4 separate regions of the Homo sapiens genome follow, and all the other regions are linked to region 1. The links come from fine-mapping of genetic effects on gene expression. A gene starts in region 1. Each other region holds a variant in brackets. All regions are shown on one strand. Distances are between the middles of the regions.

Evidence for each region. PIP is the estimated chance that this variant, and not a neighbour inherited with it, causes the effect. A credible set is the group of variants that fine-mapping cannot tell apart.
Region 2: its variant is the best candidate, but not a certain one, in a credible set for the expression of LINC02604 in naive CD4 T cells (Schmiedel 2018, PIP 0.76).
Region 3: its variant is the best candidate, but not a certain one, in a credible set for the expression of LINC02604 in prostate (GTEx, PIP 0.51).
Region 4: its variant is the best candidate, but not a certain one, in a credible set for the expression of LINC02604 in gastroesophageal junction (GTEx, PIP 0.76).

The regions. Positions count from the first base shown.
Region 1 is chr7:66,901,758-66,907,223 of GRCh38, forward strand. It overlaps LINC02604 (long intergenic non-protein coding RNA 2604), which reads left to right and starts at 2,363. Exons shown (of 1, transcript NR_136637.1): 1 at 2,363-4,540.
Region 2 is chr7:66,783,441-66,788,906 of GRCh38, forward strand. It overlaps RABGEF1 (RAB guanine nucleotide exchange factor 1), which reads left to right. Exons shown (of 9, transcript NM_014504.3): 4 at 235-401. Among named protein-coding and RNA genes, the nearest start is that of RABGEF1, 45 kb to the left of the region's middle. The variant G/A (reference allele first, on the strand shown) is at 2,439.
Region 3 is chr7:66,665,832-66,671,297 of GRCh38, forward strand. It overlaps LOC100996437 (a long non-coding RNA gene), which reads left to right. Exons shown (of 4, transcript NR_110037.1): 2 at 1,567-1,779; 3 at 2,933-3,082; 4 at 3,399-3,771. It also overlaps a transcript of RABGEF1 not described here. Among named protein-coding and RNA genes, the nearest start is that of KCTD7, 40 kb to the left of the region's middle. RefSeq lists enhancers at 265-1,005, 1,006-1,745. The variant C/T (reference allele first, on the strand shown) is at 2,421.
Region 4 is chr7:66,853,448-66,858,913 of GRCh38, forward strand. It overlaps the pseudogene GTF2IP23. Among named protein-coding and RNA genes, the nearest start is that of LINC02604, 48 kb to the right of the region's middle. The variant G/A (reference allele first, on the strand shown) is at 2,277.

The sequences.
Region 1 (5,466 bases):
CCTCCCCCACCGCAGTTGCTGCCTCCCGGCCTCTTCTCCAGTCCCAGTCCTCTCTCGCAGCTGTGTCTACAGGCCCAGCTCCTGCCTCCAAAGAGCCTCTTTTGACTCGGCTCCTACCCAGCTCCTGGCAGCCTTTGTAGGCCTGAAATCTCTTCCAGTCCAGCACTCCATACCCAGTCTCCCCTCACAGCGGCCTTCCCAGGCCCAGCTTTTGCCTCACAGCGGCCTTCCCCGGCCATTTTCTAGCCGGCCTCGCGGTAGCCTCAACAAGCCCAGCTCCCGCCTCACACTGGCCTCTCTAGGCCCAGCTCAGGCGTCACAGTGGCGTCTCCAGGCCCAGCTCCCGCCCACCCCAACAGCGTCTCGCGGCTCAAGGCGTTCTCAAGATGGCCCTTCCAGGCCAAGTTCCTGCCTCCCGCCGATGGCCCGTGTGGGCCCAAAGCGTCCTGAAGTCGGCCTCGCCAGGCCCAGCTCCTGCCTGTCGTAGGCGCCTAGAGGCATGGCCTCTGCCTCCTCACAGTGGACCCCCCCAGACCCAGCTCTTGCTTCAGCATGGCCACCTCAGGCCAAGCTCCTGCCTTGCCTGTTGGCAGCCTCCACAGGCCCAGCTCTTGCCTCTCGCCATCCTCTCCAGGTCCAGAACTGTTTCCAGCCGGCCTCTCCAGGCCCAGCTCTCCCTCCCGGCTGTGGCTGCCGGCCCAGCTCCTGCCTCGCAACAGGCACGTTCGGCCCAACTCCTGCCCAGCTCATGGCAGCATTTGTAGGCCCCAGGCTCCTCTAAGTCAGGCCTTCCAGGCCCTGCCTTCAGCTCCCTGGCGGCCTGGAGAGGCCCAGCTCCTGCCTGACAGCGGCCTCTCCGGGCCCAGCTCTTGTCTCGCGTCGGCCTCCCCGGGACACATTTCCCCCTGCCTCGCGGCAGCCCCGAAAGACCCAGCTCCTGCCTCCTGATGGCCTCTTTAGGCTCATCTCATGCCTCACTGCAGCCTCCCCCAGGCCAGGCTCCTGCCTTTCGGCGGCTTCCGCAGGTCCGGCTCCTGCGTCCTGACGGCCTCTTTAGGCCCGGCTCGTCCCTCACAATGGCCTCTTTCAAAGGCCCAGCTTTTCCTTCGTGGCGGCCTCTCCAGGCCCAAATTGGCAAGCCTCCCCTGTCCTGGTGGCTGTCTCCCGGCCTACTCTCCAGGCCCAGCACACTCTCGCGGCTGTACCTCCAGGCCCAGCCCCTGCCTGCAGACAGCCGCTTTTGACTCGGTTCGTGCCCAGCTCCTGGCGGCCTTTGTAGGCCCGAAACCTCCTCCAGCACAGCTCTTCAGGCCCACCTGTGGCCTCGCAGCGGCCTTCCCAGGCCCAGCTCTTGCCTCACGGCGGCCTTCCCCGGCTGTATTCCTGCCAGCCTCTCGGCGGCCTCAAAAAGCCCGGCGCCTGCCTCACACTGGGGTCTCTAGGCCCAGCTCACGCCTGACGGTGGTCTCTCAAGGCCCAGCTCCCGCCCACCCCGACCGGCCCAAGGCTTTCTCAAGTTGGCCCATCCAGGGCCCAATTCCTGCCCTCCGCTGATGGCCTGTGCAGACCCAAAGTATCCTGAAGTCGGCCTCGCCGGGCCTAGCTCCTGCCTGTCATAGGCCCCTAGAAGCACGGCCTCTGCCTTCTAAAAGTGGAACCCCCCAGTCCCAGCTGTTGCCTCAGCGTGGCCACATCAGCCGAAGCTCCTGCCCTGCCTGTTGGCAGCCTCCATGGGCCAAGCTCTTGCCTCTCACCATCCTCTCCAGGCCCAGTACTGTTTCCAGCCGGCCTCTCCAGGCCCAACTCTCCCTCTCAGCTGTGCCTGCCGGCCCAGCTCCTACCTCGCAAAAGCCACGTTCGGCCCAGCTCCTGCCCAGCTCCTGGCAGCCTTTGTAAACCCCAGGATCCTCTAAGTCAGGCCTTTCAGGCCCTGCCTTTGGCTCCCCGGTGGCATGGAGAGGCCCAGCTCCTGCCTGACAGCGGCCTCTCCAGGCCCAGCTCTTGCCTCACGTTGGCCTCCCTGGGCCACGTTTCCGCCTGCCTCGCGGCAGCCCCGACAATCCCGGCTCCTGCCTCCCGATGGCATCTTTAGGCTCATCTCGTGCCTCACCACGGCCTGCACCAGGCCACACTCCTGCCTTTCGGTGGCCTCCGCGGGCCTGACTCCTGCGTCCCAATGGCCTCTTTAGGCCCGGCTCGTGCCTCGCCGCGGCCTCCTGAGGCCCACCTTTGCCCTTCTGGCAGCCTCTCCAGGCCCAGGACTTCCTCAAGTCGGCCTCTGCCAGCCCAGTGGCCGCCTCCCGGCCTCCTCTCCGGGCCCAGCTCCTTGCTCGTGGCTGCGCCCGCGGGCCCAGCTCCTGCCTCTGAACATCCTCCTGTGACTCGGCTCCTGCCCAGCTCCCAGCGGCCTCCGTAGACCCGAAGCCTCCTCCGGTCCAGCTCTCCAGGCCTGCCTCCTGCCTCGTGGCGGCCTTCCCCGGCCATGCTCGTGCCGGCTTCCCGGCAGCCTCCACGAGCCCGGCTCCTGCCTCACGCGGGCCCCTCCAGGCCCAGCTCGTGCCTCGCGGCGGCCTCTCCAGGCCCGGCTCCCGCCCAGCCCGACGGCGTCTCCCAGCCCAAGGCTCCCTTCCTCAACGTCGGCCCCTCTGGGCCCAGCTCCTGCCTCCCGCTGATGGCCTGTGCGGGCCCACCCGAGGCGGCCCGAAGTCGGCCTCGCCAGGCCCAGCTCCTGCCTGGCGTAGGCCCCTGGGGGCACGGCCTCTGCCCCACAGTGGCCCCTCCGGGCCCAGCTCGTGCCTCGGCTTGGCCGCCTCAGGCCCAGCTCCTGCCTGTGGGCGGCCTCTCTCCAGACCCGGCTCTCGCCTCCCGGCATCCTCTCCAGGCCCAGAGCTGTTTCCAGTTGCTAGACCATTTTTGTGCCTGCCTCGTTGCAGCATCTCCAAGCCCAGCTTTTGCTTTTCTGCAGTTTCTTGAGGCCGAACTCCATTTTTCGAATGGCTTATTTAGGCCCAGCTCTTGCGTTTGCATTGTCCCTTCAGGCCCAGAACTTTCTCACGTCATCGTCACCAGGCCTAGCTTCTGCATCTGGTCAGCCTTTTAAGGCCCAGCTTTTGCCTCATAAACTCAGCTCCTGTTTAATGGCGGCCTCCCAGGTCCCACCTTCTGCCTTCCTGTGTCCACTCCAGGCCCAGCTACTGCCTTGGTGCTCTTTTTAAGTCAATAATTTTTTCCAGTCGACCTCTCCAGGCCCAACTTGTACCTCTGAGTGTCCTCTAGGATCTCAGCTTCTGCCTAACAATGACCTCTTTAGACTCAGCTCATTTTCACTGCTACATCTTCAAGCCATTCTCCTGCCTCTTGGCAACCTCTAGTGGCCCAGCTTCTGCCTCACAGCAGCCTCTCCATGCATGCCTAGCTCCTGCCTCTTTAGGGAACTTACAGGCCTAAAACTTTCTTAATTTGGGCTTCTCAGGCCCAGCTCCTGCCTTCTGTTGGCCTCTACAGGCCTGGCATCATCCTTTCAACAGCCTCTTTAGGCCCGGCCTCTCCAGGACCAAAACATCCTTAAGTCAACCTCACCAGGCCCGGCTCCTGTCTCCTTGCGGCCTCCAGAGGCCGAGCTTTTGCCTGCCAATGGCCTCTCTAGCCCCAGCTTTTGCCTGCCAATGGCCTCTCTAGCCCCAGCTTCTGCCTTTCATCGGTCTCTCCAGGCTTAGCTCCTTTCTCTTCACGGCCTCTGCAGGCCTAAAACTTCCTCAATTTGGCATCTCCAGGCCCAGCTCCTGCCTCCAGGCCGCCTCTGCAGGCCTATCTCAAGCCTTACAACAGCCTCTTTACCCCCAGCTCCTTTCTCCGACTTGTCTCTCCAGGCCTAGAACTTCCTCATGTTTACCTCACCAGGCCCACCTCCTGCCTTCCAGTAGCGTCTACAAGTTTGGCTCCTGCCTCCCATGGATCTCTCCAGGCCCCAAACTTTCTCAAGTCAACCTCACCAGGCCCGGCTTCTCCCTTTCATCAGCCTTCCAAAGGCCAGCTTTTGCTTCATGTCTGCCTTCCGAGTCCCAGCTCCTGTTTTATGGCAGCCTCCTGAGGCCCAGCTCCTGCCTCCTAGTGGCCTCTTTTGGCCCAACTCTTTCCTCACCAGGGCCTTCCAGACCACGTTCCTGCCTTTTAGCAGCCACTACAGGCCCAGCTTTGCGTCCTTTCAAGAGTCCTGCCTCACAGTGGCCTCCCAAGGGCAACTTTCTGCCTCATGTCAGCCTCTTGTGCCCTGGTCCTGCTTCCTGGTAGACTCTGCAGGCCCTGCTCCTGCCTTACGTTGCCCCTTTTATAAAGATCCAGTTCCTGCCTCCTGGCTGCCTCTATGAGCCCAAATCCTGCCTAACAACAACCTGTTTTTGCCCAGCTCCTGCTTCCTGGCAGCCTCCTTAGGCCAAAAATTTCCTTCAGTTGACCTCTCCAGGCCCAGCTCCTGCCTCTCAGCACCCTCTTTAGGCCCAGCTCCTGCCTTAATAAATTTGAATAAATTATTGTTATGTGATTATTATGTGAAACATTTTTTCTTCAAAAGGTAATGAAAATTGAGGTAAAGTATAAAAGTCTAGCATATAAATTCCTCTATTGTCACCCTTCGTATTAGTCACAGTTCTCTAAAGGAGCAGAACTGTTAGGATAGATGTATATATATAAGGGAGTTTCTTAAGGGGTATTAACTCACAGGATCACAAGGTTCCACAATAGGCTGTCTGCAAGCTGAGGAGCAAGGAAGCCATTCTGAGTCCCAAACCTGAAGAACTTGGAGTCCGATGTTCTAGGGCAGGAACCATCCAGCATGGGAGAAAGATGTAGGCTCGGAGGCTAAGCCAGTCTCACCTCTTTATGTTCCTCTGCCTCATTTTTATTTTTGCCACACTGGCAGCTGATTAGATTGTGCCCACCTAGTTTAAGGGCGGGTCTGCCTTTCCCAGCCCCCTGACTCAAATGTTAATCTCCTTTGGCAACACCCTCACATACACACCCAGGAACAATACTTTGCATCCTTCAGTCCAATAGAGTTGACAGTCAATATTAACCATCACAAGTTCACCCCTTGTCAACTTTAACCCATACACATCTTCTGAAATTATACATAATCTTCAAATAAAGATAATAATAAGGTCATAATTGTGCCTAAGATAATAATAAAAGTATTCTTCATACAACTGGAAATGCACCAATCCTGAACCCAAATGCCCTTATATAAAACTAACACTTAGATGCTTATATGAAGTCAATATAAGTTATTCACACAATAAAGGAAAAAGGAAATGAAATATTCTTAGTACAAGCTTATATATGCACAAACATGTTTTTAACAAAAGGAGGAAATACTCATGACAATTACAGTCCTCGTTTCTGTAGCTGGTCACATGGTCATAGCTGGTATTGATGACTGCCTTTTTCTATTACCCATTCTGTATTCTTTTT
Region 2 (5,466 bases), 120 kb before region 1:
TCAGTAGGAATATCTTTTAGATAATGTAGTTTTGTCTACTCATACTTCCTACTTGTAAAACAGATTTAGTTTACTTTAAGGAAAGTTGTCCAACCATTCAAACATAAAATTATTTAAATTCAAGTTTAACTTTGATGAAACATAATTTAAATAACCTTAGGTAAGATACTTAAAGTAATTCCATGCATGGATCTTTTATGTCATGAAACTTACTATGTTTAATTTTCCCAGCAGAAATTCAGGAAGCAAAAGCTCCCAGTCCTTCCATAAACCGGCAAACCAGCATTGAAACGGATAGAGTGTCTAAGGAGTTCATAGAATTTCTCAAGACCTTCCACAAGACAGGCCAAGAAATCTATAAACAGACCAAGCTGTTTTTGGAAGGAATGCATTACAAAAGGGTAGGTTGAGAATAACCACGTAGAAACATAGAGTTTTGGTTTGAGGAAAGGTCTTAGAGATAATATAGTGCAACCTTGTCATTTTATGCCTGAGAAAAATCCAGACCAAGAGATGTTAAATTACTTACCTAAGAAAAGCCTCTGAATCAAGCTAAAACCCAACTCTTAGGCTAGTACTTTTCCACTGCAACTCAGTGGTGTTTGGATCATCTTTGTGTGGAAATTCTGACCTGAAGCCACTTGAATTATGTGCTTTAGTAACAGGCCTTTTTGACTTGTGACCTTGTAAATAGTATAAACTGCGATAGTAGACCTTTAACTCTGTGCAACCATTGTTAGGCCAGTGGCAGTAATTTTAAGGGTTGTTGTTGTTGAATTCTGTTTTGTTTTTTGTATTTTGATTTTGAATTTTTTCATTCAGTTAGAGAAAGGACAGATAGAATTTAGACAATGAAAGGGACTTTAGCAACTATGGAGTTTCAGTCCCTTTATTTTATAGATGAGGAAGTTGAGAGCCAAAGAGGATAAGTGACTTGTCCAAGGTTACACAGCTAGATTTTGCCAATGTCAACCAGAACTTGTGATTTCCACACCTGTTTCTTTTACCCATAATTTCAGTGGCAATAATTAATAAGACTGCCTGTAAAGGAATTCATTTTGTAAATAGGGATTAATTCTGTTGTAACATTCTATAACCATTAAACTCAGAATTAGCTCTGAAAGTTCCTTCTATGCAGTAAGGAAGTCTTAGAAAGAAAAAGGAAATTAGAAAAGCAGCAGGGTGTTTAACTGTTTAGCTATATTCTAGCTGGGGTCAGCAATCACTAGGCTAATAAGCAGTGGACTTGTGTCAAAATAATTTTTAGATATTGAATTCAGTTTGTAAAGGAGAAAAGCTTGCTTTCTCGCCCTTCAGAAATGTAATTAGACTGTGTAAGTAAGTAGCTGTCTTTCTCTAGGTATTTTTTCTCTCTAGAGTAAAACATTTAGAGTCAAAACAAGTGAGCTGTTATTGTTTTTTTTTTAAGTTAGGAAACATGATAGATATCCTTAATATGGAACAATTCAGAGTTCATATGACACCATCTTTCATTTTTATCAGAACTAAAAACTGAGGTTTTGTATTTATTTTTTTCTTGAGCCCACATGAAATGTTCACGGGATAGCTATATTAAGTTAGTGTATGTATACTGTAGTACATATAGCATGTATGCTGTATAATATGTTTTAGAAAATTGCTCAACTCAGATTTGGTATTTTTCTTTTGCTCAGAAGTGTGATGTGTTCTTACTCTGTAATAATTTAGTAGACTTCTAAATGAGTATACTAAAGTAAAGAGGTAATTAACTGGTACAAATATCACAATGCCTATTTGTAAGGCATCACTAGTTTATATCAGAGACCTGCATATGGCCTCAGATTCCTCCTGTTTTAAGAGCCACTAAGCCACCTATTTTCCATTTCTACACTATGTGTTTCATGGTTAGGTGGCCAAGTCCTATGCATGTATCTCAGGTATCTTTAGTGTGAAGTCTGCACATACCATATATGAAAGAGATGTTTTTTAAACTGAATGTCCCTAGAGAAGCCCTTTTGGCCTTTGTCTGCAAGTTAATGTCCTTTCAAATAAATAAATAAACACTCTTTACACCTGAACTAACATAACTAGCTTCAGATCACTAATCATATAAATTTCTTGGGGCAGTTCCTCTGAAGTTGTGAAGAATGTGGTAGTATAAAATAGCCTTTGTGGCCGGGTGCGGTGGCTCACGCCTGTAATCCCAACATTTTGGGAGGCCGAGGCAGGCGGATCACAAGGTCAGGAGATAGAGACCATCCTGGCTATCACGGTGAAACCTTGTCTCTACTAAAAATACAAAAAATTAGCTGGGCGTGGTGGCAGGCGCCTGTAGTCCCAGCTACTTGGGAGGCTGAGGCAGGAGAATGGCGTGAACCTGGGAGGCGGAGCTTGCAGTGAGCGGAGATTGCACCACTGCACTCCAGCCTGGATGACAGAGCGAGACTCCATCTGGGGGG[G/A]AAAAAAAAAAAGTCTTTGTACTCAGTTCTTCAAAACTGCGCAAAACCTTTAAATTAATGTTATTACCACCAACTAAACTTTCTAGATGGTATCCTAAGGGCCTATGCAATATGAAAATCCATTCTTACCTGTTTAAAAACTGCCCAGTCAGCCTTGCCATAAATGGATAATTGTTCCTACTGCATCCCACAGTATTATTCTTTCTAAAATTTCTGAGATCCAGGAGAGTGATCTGCTCTTGCCCACATCTTTCCCACATCATTTCTGTTTTCTCCAAGCCCTGTATATGCCGGTGGTGAGCAGCCTTTTCAGCATATGGGTCAAGTCTAGAAAATTAAATCTTTTCCGAACTGCATTAAAATTTTTAAGCCATTTTATCTTTATCAAGAAACACCTTGTCTACACTAAGATGTTTTTTGTTTTTAGAATTTAAATTTCAGCACCTACGTAATTTTCATACCCACTGCAGTATGGCAGTATAATGCTTTACTATGCAACACACTTCTCTTTCTTTCCTTTCCTTTCCTTTTCTTTCTTTTTTTGAAGCAGTGTGTTGCTCTATCTCCTGGACTGGAGCACAATAGCGCAGTTGCTGCTCACTGCAGACTTGACCTCCCAGACTCAAGTGATCCTCCTGCCTTAGTCTCCTGAGTAGCTGGGACTAGTGGCACACACCACCATGTCTGGCTGAGTTTTTTATTTTTTGTAGAGACAGGGTTTCCCTATGTTGCCCAGGCTGGTCTTGAATTCCTGACCTCAGGTGATCTTCCCAACTTGGCCTCCCAAAGAGCTGGGATTATAGGTGTGAGCCACCGCGCCCAGTGCTATTCAGCAAATGTTGTTTGCTAATATTTTTCTGAAGCTTGTTTATTTTGCTCTTTTTTCTTTCTTGCTAGTCTTACTAGCCACTTAATGTTAAAACATGTATACTCTTACAGTACTTCTATACATTCTTTAAAACAAGATATTTCCATTGCAAATGAGACGGGCAGCTATGTCATTAACACAAAATCCTTTTATGTTGAAAATATAGTTGCCATCAGCTACTTTTCTGTTCTTACAAATCATCATAGCAAGAATTTAAATTGCTGAGCCAAATTAATAAAGCTTAATTTTTAAAACCTAATCTGTACAACATAACTTGAATTATTATTATTTCTTTTTGAGATAGGAGTCTTGCTCTGTTGGCCAGGCTGGAGTGCAGTGGTGTGATCTCTGCTCATTGCAGCCTTTACCTTCCAGGTTCCAGTGATCGTCCTCCCTCAGCCTCTCGAGTAGCTGGGATTACATGCATGTGCCACCATGCCCAGATAATTTTTACTTTTTTTTTTTTTTGTAGACACAGGATTTCACTATGTTGGCCAAGCTAGTCTTGAACTCCTGACCTCAAGTGGTCTGCCCGCCTTGGCCTCCCAAAATCTTGGGGTTACAGAAGTGAGCCACCATGCCTGGCCTGATTTTTTTTTTTTTTTTTTTTTTTTTAAGATAGAGTCTTGCTCTGTTGCCCAGGCTGTAGTGCAGTGGCGTGATTTCGGCTCACCCCAACCTCTGCCTCCCAGGTTCAAGCAATTTTTATGCCCCAGCCTCCCGCATAGCTGAGATTACAGGTGTGCACCACCATGCCGAGCTAATTTTTTGTATGTTTAGTAGAGATGGGGTGTTACTCTGTTAGCCAGGCTGGTCATGAACTCCTAGCCTCACATGATCCGCCCACCTTGGCCTCCCAATGTGCCGGGATTACAGGATTGAGCCACAATACCTGGCCTAACTTGAATTTAAGAATCTCACCTTAACCAAGCTTCACACAGGTCTGAGAGTGATTATGGATTCAGGAGTATATATAGTCACTTATGAAGAGGTATACATTCTCTTTGTCATCTGGACAGAGCTTCATGTGGTGAGGGCAATTTTAAGGCACTGTATAGACCCAATCAAGTGTTAACCTTTCCCATAATAACTAGAAAACCATATTACCTAACTGAATGAGATCTGTGGCTTTGTAAATAACTTTTTTCTGTAAATTATTTATATGAAAACGCTCACTGTAAGACACATGTTTAGACTGCAATTAAATAAAAGTAAATAAAACTTCTGGAAAAACTCTTTTGCTGCTCAAACTATTTAAATCCTGCCCTTGCTAAGTGTTAATAAATCCCTCAGATACATTTTTTCCCTATTCTGAAAGTGTAGCTTGTCCTGCTTTTAAAGGGGGCAGGCTCTACTTCCTCAAAGTACCTACCCTTTAATTTGTTGGGTATTGCAGTAGTGCTTTTTAATAAACTTGGGGCTGGGCGAGGTTGCTCACACCTGTAATCCCAGCACTTTGGGAGGCTGAGGTGGGTGGATCACGAGGTCAGGATTTCGAGACCAGCCTGGCCAATATGGTGAAACCCTGTCTCTACTAAAAATACAAAAATTAGCTGGGCATGGTGGCGCTCGCCTGTAGTCCCAGCTACTCGGGAGGCTGAGGGAGAAGAATCACTTGAACCCAAAAGGTGGGGTTGCAGTGAGCTGAGATCATGCCACTGCACTCCAGCCTGGGCAACAGAGCAAGACTCCATCTCAAAAAAAAACAAAAAACAAAACAAAACAAAACACCCCTCATTTTTTGGGTTTCTCAATTCAGTTATTTTTATTTTTTTAATTTGTATTAGTCCCTTAATACTCCATTCATGGCAATCAATTCAGTTTCTAAAAGACTTCTTAATAGTCATTCTGATAAGCTCTTCTTTCTAAGGAAGCAGTTAAGCACAACATAACACCTTTTGCTTGTTTCATTGTTATTTTTCTAGCCAGTCCTATAAAAATCTGATACTGAGCTGGGCACAGTGGCTCACGCTTGTAATCCTAGCACTTTGGGAAGCCAATGCGGGTGGATCACCTGGCCAACATAGTGAAATCCCGTCTCTACTAAAAATACAAAAAATTAGCTGGGCGTGGTGGCGGGTGCCTGTAATCCCAGCTACTAGGGAGGCTGAGGCAGGAGAATCACTTGAACCTGGGAGGCCAAGGTTGCAGTTAGCCAAG
Region 3 (5,466 bases), 240 kb before region 1:
GGTCTCAGTTCTTGACAAGCTCCTAGCCAGAGGAAAGGCGATTTCATTCCGGTGTGATGAGCACTAGTAGAAGAGATGTTAGAACGGAGGGACTGCACGGACCAGGTGGAGGTCAAGGAAGGCTTCTTGGAGGTGACATAGGAGCTGGCCTGCGAGGCTGAGTGGGAATATTTTGGGTGGAAAGACCACGGAACAAGCATTTCCGACAGAGGAAGCAGCTATTGAAGAGGGAAGGTGGTTGTGTGCTGGGGAAACCTATGTGGTTCTCCATGGTCATAACAGGATGCCTGGGGCGTGGGGGGCAGAATGTCAGCCGGCAAAGTGGGGACCGGAGTACCCGGGAAGCTGGGATGAAGGAGCCTCCTCTGCAGGTAGGGACAGGGCCCTCTGAAGCCGGGGAGGGGACGGGGAAATGGGGAAGGGACCACAGTGGAGTCTCTCCAGTTGTGCTTAGAGACCACCTGCCTTCATATCACCCGAGGAGTCCCAAAATGCAGATTCCAGGGCCTGGGGCTCCACCATCCCAGCTCTGTTGGTTGCAAAAAACCTGGGAGGGAAGAGAGACAGCCCCCTCTTAGCCTAGTCAGGGCCTGGTGCAGTTTGGGGACTGTTTGCTGAGGGCAACTGAGGCCGAAGTGAGCCAGGCGGGCCCTAGGGTGCCCACCGCACACCCCCTCTGTGCCAGGCTCCCAGCTCAGGGTATTGGTGGGCACTCCAGTGATGTTTCCTGGCAGGGAGAGGGCTCGTTTCTTGCCTCCTTCTGAGGCAAGTAGGGGCAGATGTTGAGCCTCTGGGGTCCCTGGCCCAAGGCTGCAGGTCCTGGCTGCTCACAGCCGGCGGGTGGAGCCCTGTCTGGCCAACACCCTTGCTCTTTATCTATGTCTCAGCAAGGGAAGGTACCCAGGTTAGTGTCCAGCTGGGTGGGCGTCCAGGCTTTGGCAGCAGTGCCAGCCTCCCATCCGGCCCTGGAGATGGTCCCCTGAGTTCCAGGGCTCCTTGGAGAGGTCAGGATGGGCAGAAATTTGCAGGGGCAGGGAGCTGGCACTGGGGTTGGGGAAGCCTTGGGCAGACACAGCCTCTCCACCACAGTAGGGAGCTGGCCTCAGGCAGCAAGGCACTGCAGGTGCCCCAGAGACACAGGCTGAACCCCAGACCAGTTGAGCCAGGGTGGGAAATCATATGTCCACTCCAGACAGCCCTGGGGCTCTGAATTTGCATTTGGGAGCATGCAATTGTCTCCTCCAAGGCTCTGGTGGAGGGGATTTGAAATAATCCCAGCCCAGGGAGGGTGGAGCATAGGGACAGGGCCCAGAGAGGGTCCAAGGGCACCACAGGAGGTTTGCCACCTGAGCCCGGGGATCAGGAAGGGCTTGGCCAGTGCTGAGCACCCTTAGTGCCTGGCACGGGCTGAGACTCAGGGGCCGGCCATGCCTCTCCTGAAGCAGTCCCTGTTGGTGGGCAGGCAGGTGGGGTGGGCTGGGGGCTGTGCACAGCCACTCATATCTTCCCCGTTACTTCATCCATTTTGTTCCCGCTGATCCCTTGTTTATCTCACTGGGAATGCAGCCTCGGTGGAAGATGGGGCCAAGGGAAAGTCCAGAGCCTGGGCCATCTCCAGCCTCACTCACCCTCCTCCCTCACCTGGTCCCTGGGCTGAGGATCATGGCCCGGCCTGAGAACCCCCAAGGCAGCATGCAGAGGCCGGGTCTGCACCGAGCCCTGACACTGACAGGCTGTGTGACGACGACTGACAACTAACCCTCTCTGGTTTTACTTTCTGTAAGTGACTTGGGAGGTTGTTCTGAATGACCTTTGAAAGGGATGAAAAATTGGTATTAATAAGCCTGTCATTTCATAAGCATCTACTCTGTGTCCAGCCCTGTGCAGGTCCCTGGAGTCTCCTCTCACCGAATGCTCCCACGTCCCCAAGAAGTTCCATTATCCCATTTTACTTATTTATTTATTTGTTTATTTATTTATGTTTGAGATGGAGTCTTGCTCTGTCGCCCAGGCTGGAGTGCAATGGTGCAATCTCGGCTCACTGCAACCTCTACCTCCCGGGTTCAAGTGATTCTCCTGCATCAGCCTCCCTAGTAGCTGGAATTATAGGCACATGCCACCACGCCTGGCTGATTTTTGTATTTTTAGTAGAGACAGGGTTTCACCATGTTGGGAAGGCTGGTCTCGAACTTCTGACCTCAGGTGATCTACCGGCCTTGGCCTCCCAAATTGCTAGGATTACAGGTGTCAGCCACCGCGCCTGGCCCCATTTTACTTATTTTTAGAGACAGGGTTTTGCTCTGTCACCCAAGCTGGAGTACAGTGGTGCAAATATAGCTCACTGCAACCTTGAACTCCTGGACTCAAGTAATCCTCCTGCCTCAGCCTACCGAGTAGCTGGGACCATACACCACCATGCC[C/T]GGCTAATTGTTTAATTTTTTTGTTTTTAGAAATGGGGTCTGGCTATGTTGCCCAGGCTGATCTCGAACTCCTGGCCTCTAGCCATCCTTCTACCTCAGCCTCCGAAAGCGTTGGGATTACAGCCGTGAGCCACCATGCCCAGCCCCACTATCCTATTTTAGACATGAGACTGAGAGAATGGCCGGGAGTCCCTCCAGCTGGCATCTTGCAACTTGAATTGCTGAGGTTTCAGGTGCAGGGGTGTCCCCAGATGGTTGTGGAGATGGAGACCAGGTTGGAGAAGACCCTCTGGAGAGGGGGGGATTGGCATAGGAAGTGAGGGCTATTGTGGGCCGGGGGTGAAAGCCCAGCAGGGCCAGTGTGGGAGAACGTCACTTAGGAAGCTACCAGAAAGATATGCCAGACTCCTGCCAGGCCTTGTCACTGCAGAGCCCCTGGCAAGAGAGGGACATTTGTGGACCCTGGAGGCTTGCGTGGGATGGGCCTTAATCCCCACTTTCTTCCCTGGAAGATCACCTCTTAGGCAGAGCAGTGGGCGCAGATGCCATGGCGGGAAGCAGGCCTTTCTGAATTCTTAGCAGCGATCTCCAGGGGCACTCTAACCTTGCAAGAAAGAGGCTGCCAGTCTTGCATCAGATGCAGAAACCAGGGCGCAGAGTAGGTGAGTAATCTGCTTAGAGCCACACAGCTGTGAGTAGCAGATCCAAGTGCAACCTGCCTGTCCCAGGAGCTTGCGGGCTAGCTAGACCTTTGCTGCCTAGAAGACCCTCTTGTGAGTCCCCTCCCTGGGCTCAGCAACCCGGGAGGGCATGACTTCTGGCTGGGTCTTAGGGCTGGAGCCTTGGTGTCCTCTTGTCTTCTTTCCTTGTGTGACTTGGTTTTCCAGTCTGTGAAATGCGGTGGGTGCATCCAACTCCAAGCCTGTCTCTGCCCTGGGTCCTGGAGCCTGGAGGACGAATGAGGTCATGTTTTTCTAGGAGCTAGAGCATCTTGGATGGAGAAACCTCGGCAAAGACAAAGGCCCATTGTCCCCCTTCCCCGGCCTTCTGCCAGCTCCCTCCCCAGTCACCAGAGGAGGCCAGCCCTGCCCACCCCACAGCCCCCAGAGGCTGCCAGGCGCCAATATGGGGTAACTCAGCGCCCCCTCCCTTGCCATTGGTTGACGATGCCTGGAATCCCACCATCAGAGCTTTGTTAAGGTTGCTGTGGGATGGGTGGCAGGGAGGCAGCAAAAGACAAGAAGGTGGTGGGGACCTCTGGCTTGTGGATTTCATAATCAGACCTTTATGGTGGGCTTGGGTAGGAGATCAGGCAATACTAAATAATAATAAAAACAAATTTCACACTTGCTTTTCAGTAGCTTTGGCATGAAACCTTTATAAGCATTATCTCAATGAGGCCCACAGAGCTCTGTCAGTCATTAGCCAGGCAGGACAAATAACAGCTTGAACATAATGCGTCCAAAAGTCAACTCTTGGTTCCTTCCCCAGCCTGCCCCTCCTGTGACTTCCCCGTCTCGGGAAATGGCACCATCATCATCTACCTGGTGGCTCCGGCCAGAAAACAGGGAGGCATCTTTGGATCATCTCACCCTCACCACCCACACCCGGGCCACCACCAAGACTCTTCAATTCTACCTCCAAAATAAATCCCTACCCCACTTCCCTCTGTTCTCGTTGCCACCCCTGTGTCAAGCCATCACCAGCTTGGCCCTGGAGGCCAGCACAGCCTCCTTCCCGCCTCCCTGCCTCCTCTCTACCCCCAACAGCCAGAATAACTTGCAGAAAATGTAAATCAGGCCCCATCTCATTCTCCTTCTTAAACCGCCCCTTTCCCCAAGGGCTTCCTATTGCATTTGCACCAAAATCGACACCCCCCAAATAGCTCTGAGGTTCACCATGACCTGGTGCTGCCTCACCTCCTCCAATTTCACTGTCCCCTAGTTCTTTTCCCCTGGAATCTGTGTGTTTGCATAAGCTGTTCCCTTTGCCTGGATGCTCTTCCCTGCAATTCTTTCCCCACTGGTCCCTTCTCATACTTTAGGTCTCAGCTGGGAGCTTACTTAAACTTTTTTGTTTGAGATGGAGTCTCATGCTGTCACCCAGGCTGGGTGACATAGTACCTAGAAGAGGAGATGACATATTGATGGAATTTAATAAATGGGCTTATTGAATGAGATGATTTTTTTTTTTTTTTTTTTTTTTTTTTTTTTGGCTAGAGGACACAAAGACAGCCAGAGAAATTCCAAATAACACACACTGGCTGGATGAAATTGCTTCAGTGATAGATATTTAAACAATTTTTATTTTTAGCTGGGCGCGGTGGCTCACACCTGTAATCCAAGCACTTTGGGAGGCCAAGGCGGGTGGATCTCTTGAGGCCAGGGGTTCAAGACCAGCTCACTACAGCATGATGAAACCCCATCTCTACTAAAAATACAAAAGTTAGCTGGGTGTGGTGGCTCGCGCCTGTAATCCCAGCTACTCAGGAAGCTGAGATAGGAGAATCGCTTGAACCCGGGAAGCAGAGGTTGCAGTGAGCCGAGATGGCGCCACTACACTCCAGCCTGGGTGATAGAGCAAGATTCCGTCTCAAAAAACAAAACAAAATTTTATTTTTATTTATTTAATACACATACGTATACACACACACACACACACACACACACACACATATGTGCTCTGATGCACTGGAGCTTCCACTGGTCTTACTTAATGTGTGTGATACTCTCATTATTTATGTATCTATATATATCTATATCTATATTTATATATATATATAGAGAGAGAGATAGAGAGATGGGATCTTGCTGTGTTGCCCAGACTGTCTCAAGCTCCTGGCCTTGGGCAATCTTCCCACCTTGGCCTCCCAAAATGCTGGTATTACAGTATTTAATTTTTAGGTGTTTTTTGTTTTTTCGGGGGCTGCATTTTTGGAGATAGGGTCTTGCTATGTTGCCCCGGGTGGAATGTAGTGGCTGTTCACCAGTGCCATCATAGCTCACTGCATCCTTAAACTCCTGGCTCAAGCAGTCTTCTCCCCTCA
Region 4 (5,466 bases), 48 kb before region 1:
ATATTAAGTAGTCTCACCTTTCAGACATGAACTTATGGATTTAAGACATGAAGATTTACAGCTTGATAAACCAGCTTCAGGAGGTAGGTCTTCAGTCTTGAGTCAGATTAGAAGATTATGTGCAGGCTGGCCGTGGTGGCTCACACCTGTGATCCCAGCACTCTGGGAGGCCGAGGTGGGTGGATCATGAGGTCGGGAGATCGAGACAATCCTGACTAACAGGATGAAACCCCATCTCTACTAAAAGTACAAAAACTTAGACGGGTATCGTAGTGGGCACCTGTAGTCCCAGCTACTCGGGAGGCTAAGGCAGGAGAATGGCATGAGCCTGGGAGGCGGAGCTTGCAGTGAGCCGAGATCCCGCCACTGCACTCCAGCCTGGGTGACAGAGTGAGACTCCATCTCAAAAAAAAAAAAAAAAAAGATTATGTGCAATAATTATTTAATGCTTGACATTGTTTTTTTAAAATGGTACCTTCCACATGAAATAATATGCTTGTAACTATTAATTATGTTCCAGGACAGGAGAATTCATGTTGTCAAAATTCTTTTTTTTTTTTTAATTTTTTTTTTTCTTTTTGAGACGGAGTTTTGCTCTTGTTGCCCAGGCTAGAGTGCAGTGGCACAATCTAGGCTCATGCAACCTCTGCCTCCTGGGTTCAAGCAATTCTCCTGCCTCAGCTTACTGAGTAGCTGAGATTACAGGCATGCGCTGCCACACCCGGATATTTTTAATAGAGTTGGGGTTTCTCCATGTTTGTCAGGCTAGTCTCATACTCCCAACCTAAGATGATCCACCCATCTCGGCCTCCCAAAGTACTGGGATTACAGGTCAGAGCTACCCCGCCCGGCCTCATTTGTTAAAATTCTAATACTCTCTAAAACAGTGAACTCATTTTCTTTTTTTAACCCATTATAAATACATGTAAATGTTGCATTTATGGGTAGACAGAACTAAAAGAACAAAATTTGGCCTACTTTTGAGATGCAAGATTTATCTGGCATAATGCATTGAACAGGTTATTATTGAAGTCTACACCAGTCACTTGAACAAGCATTCATGAAATGTCCATGATACCCAGGACACAAGAATGTTTCCTTTTAGAGTATAGAGCCATGCATATCATCTCTTAATTGTTTAGATGTGTTTCGAAAGAAATAGAAATAGAATTGGTTTTCTTACTTGTTTTGCCTCTGGAGTGAAATGGGGACAAAACAGAATGGAATCACACTGTTAAGATTTACTAAAATGGAAGGATTGCAGCAAGATCATATCCCTAGTCTCCCCATAGCAAATGGCACCTGCTAGCTGTTTTCTTTTCTTTTTTTTTTTGAGATGGAGTCTTGCTCTGTCACCCACACTGGAGTGCAGTGGCGTGATCTCAGCTCACTGCAACATCCATCTCCCAGGTTCAGGCAATTCTCCCTGGCTCAGCCTCCCAAGTAGCTGGCATCACAGGCACCTGCCAAAAGGTCTGCGTAATTTTTGCATTTGTAGTAGAGTTGGGGTTTCACCATGTTGGCCAGGCTGGTCTCAAACTCCTGACCTTAGGTGAGCCTCCCACCTTGGCCTCCCAAAGTGTTGGGATTACAGGCATGAGCCACTGCGCCTGGTCATATGTTTTTTTATAATGTTGTTTTATTTTAGGAAAGTAAATACAATGAGTAGGACTCAGCTCCATCAGCTCCACAATTCTCTTACTGTTTTTTTTTTGTTTGTTTTTTTTTTGAGATTGAGTTTTGCTCTTGTTGCCTAGGCTGGAGTACAATGCTGTGATCTCAGCTCACTGCAGCCTCTGCCTCCTGGGTTCAAGCAGTTCTCCTGCCTCAGCCTCCTGAGTAGCTGGGATTACAGGTGCCTGCCACCTTGCCTGGCTACGTTTTTATTTTTAGTAGAGACGTGGATTCACCATGTTTGCTAGTCTGGTCTCGAACTCCTGACCTCAGTTGATTCACCTTTCTTGGCCTCCCAAAGTGCTGGGATTACAGGTGTGAGTCACTGCACTTATCTGTAATGGGATATTTCACTGCAGACTTTGATGAACAGAACATTAGCATTTTTGGTGGTGTTTTTATTTTACTCATAATATTTTTCTTTGGACTCAATTACAGTAACAGAAGTAAAGATCAAATTATAAAAATTAAAGAGCAATACAGATTCAATAATTATTCTTTTCTACATATTGTGTTTAAATGATACGCTTTTTTCTTTTTGTCTTTATAGCTCAAGCTGTAAAAGCCAAAGGTCCACCCCTTTTTTCCAGTCTCAAGCTGAA[G/A]ATCTTTATGTAGAAGGCCTTCCCCACAGGAATTTTTTTTTTTTTTTTTTTTTTGTGACAGAGTTTTTACTCTTGTCGCCTAGGCTGGAGTGCAATGGCATGATCTAGGCTGCAGTACAATGCTGTGATCTCAGCTCACTGCAGCCTCTGCCTCCTGGGTTCAAGCGATTCTCTTGCCTCAGTCTCCTGAGTACCTGGGATTACAGGCGCCCGCCACTACACCAGGCTAATTTTGTATTTTTAATAGAGATGGGGTTTCACCATGTTGGCCAGGCTGGTCTGGAACTGCTGAACTCAGGTGATCCTCCTGCTTCAGCCTCCCAGAGTGCTGGGATTACAGGCATGAACCACTACGCTAGGCCAGGAATTTTTGTTGTTGTTGTTTTTGTTTTTGTTTTTGAGACACAGTCTTGCTCTGTGCCCAGACTGGAGTGCAGTGGAGCAATCTCGGCTCACTGCAACCTCCGCCTCTTGGATTCAAGTGATTCACTTGCCTCAGTCTCCTGAGTAGCTGGGACTACAGGCGCAAGTCACCATGCCTGGTTAATTTTTTTGTATTTTTAGTAGAGATGGGGTTTCTTTTTTTTGAGACGGAGTCTCGCTCTGTTGCCCAGGCTGGAGTGCAGTGGCACGATCTCGGCTCACTGCAAGCTCCGCTTCCCGGGTTCACGCCATTCTCCTGCCTCAGCCTCCCAAGTAGCTGGGACGATAGGCGCCCGCCACCACACCCGGCTAATTTTTTGTACTTTTAGTAGACATGGGGTTTCACCGTGTTAGCCAGGATGGTCTCGATCTCTTGACCTCGTGATCCACCTGCCTCAGCCTCCCAAAGTGCTGGGATTACAGGTGTGAGCCACCGTGCCTGGCCAAGACAGGGTTTCACTATGTTAGCCAGGCTTGTCTGGTAATCCTGACTTCATCATCCACCCGCCTTGGCCTCCCAAATTGCTGGGATTCAGGCATGAGCCACTTTGCCCCACCAGAAATTTTTTTAGGAAGGCTATCCACTTACAGAATTCCTGGCTTTGAGAGGATATTACTTGCAATGGAAAGGATTTGTTTTGTGATTAAAAAGTAAGACTCCTGGATTCTTATTTGACTCTTATCTCTCTTGTGAGTAATACATCTTTTTTATTGTTGACAAATATTTACCACTACGGTTATATTTACTTAAGTTTGACTTATATTATGGGGTTTTTTTTTTTTTTGATGGAGTTTCTCTCTGGTTGCCCAGGCTAAAGTGCAATGGTGTGATCTCGGCTCACTGCAACCTCTGCCTCCCAGGTTCAAGTGATTCTGCCTCAGCCTCCTGAGTAGCTGGGATTACAGGCATGTCCCACCAAGCCCAGGTAATTTTGTATTTTTACTAGAGACAGGGTTTCTCCATGTTGGTCAGGTCTCAAACTCCTGACCTCAGGTGATCCACCTACCTCAGCCTCCCAATGTGCTGGGATTACAGATGTGAGCCACTGCACCCGGCCTATTTTAAGTATTTTTATCTTCCACTTTTTAATATATCTGGGTCCAACATTGAGTCAGTCGTGCCAGTGTTAGCTTTTGAAACATGAACACTGCCCACACCTGACTAGCATGCAACTGACATTTTCTTTCACAGTTTTCTGCTACTTTTGCTAAAGAAAATAGTATCCGTGTCTTGTTTTTAGGCCTGAGATTTTTGTGGCATATGTGGGAATATATGATTGTTTTTCTAGTTGTGTAGAGGAAGATAGTCTTGAATGCAATGTGATATTAAAGGATCCCATTTAAGATTTTTGTAATATGCTTCAAAGACCTGTGGGTTGCAGAGTTACCACTTTACTTGTGAGAACACATGCTCCATGAAGCAGCTTATGAGACAATTTACAATATTATTTTGTTTCGTTACTCTGTAGAAACCTCAAATGAAGATTTAGTTGTGCTCAATCATCCAGATTGTCTTTTCTTAATTTTTTTTTTTTCCAAGATGGAGTCTCTTTCTATTACCCAGGCTGGAGTGCAGTGGCATGATTTCGACTCACTGCAACTTCCACCTCCTGGGTTCGGGCAATTATCCTGTCTCAGCCTCCTGAGTAGCTGGGATTACAGGCACCTACCACCACGCCCAGCTGAGTTTTGTGATTTTAGTACAGATGGGGTGCCACCATGTTGGCCAGGCTTGTCTCAAACTGCTGACCTCGTGATCTGCCTGCCTCTGCCTTCCAAAGTGTTGGGATTTCAGGCATAAGCCACCATGCCCAGCCTGCCTTGTCTTTTCAAAACCACCCTTGGTGATTAAATGTGAAATATGTACTAGTGGATATTACTTTGCTGAATATTGCCTAGTGAATATTAAGTATTTATTCTTACCTTTCAGACATGAACTTATGAATTCAACACATGAAGATTTACAGCTTGACAAACCAGCTTCAGGAGGTAGGCATTCAGTCTTAAGTCAGATTAAAAGATTATGTGCAATAATTACCTAATGCTTAACATTTTTTAATGATGCCTTCCATATTAAATAATATGCCTCTAACAATTATGTGCTAGGACAGGAGAATTCATATTTTCAAAATTCTAATACTCTCTAGAACAGTAAACTCATTTTCTTTTTATTAACCCATTATAAATACATGTAAATATTGCATTTATGGGTAGACAGAACTAAAAGAACAATGTTTGTCCTACTTTTGAGATGCAAGATTTTATCTGGCATAATGCATTGAACGGGTTATTATTGAAGTCTACACCAGTCACCTGAACAAACATTCATCAAATGTCTATGATACCCAGGACATAAGTTTTTCTTTTATAGTATGGAGCTGTGCATATCATCTCTTATTGTTAGATGTGTTTTGAAAGAAATAGAAATAGAATTGATTTTCTTACTAGTTTTGGCTCTGGAGTGGAGTGGGGACAAAACAGAATGGAATTACACTCTTTAGATTTACTAAAATGGAAGGATTGCAGCAAGATCATATCCCTAGTCTCCCCATAGCAAATGGCACCTTCTGTTTTTTTGTTTGTTTGTTTGTTTGTTTTTGAGATGGAGTCTTGCTCTGTCACCCACACTGGAGTGCACTGGCATCATCTCAGCTCACTGCAACCTCTTTCTCCCAGGTTCGAGCAATTCTCCCTGGCTCAGCCTCCCAAGTAGCTGGGATTACAGGCAGCTGCCACCAGGCCTGCCTAATTTTTGTATTTTTAGTAG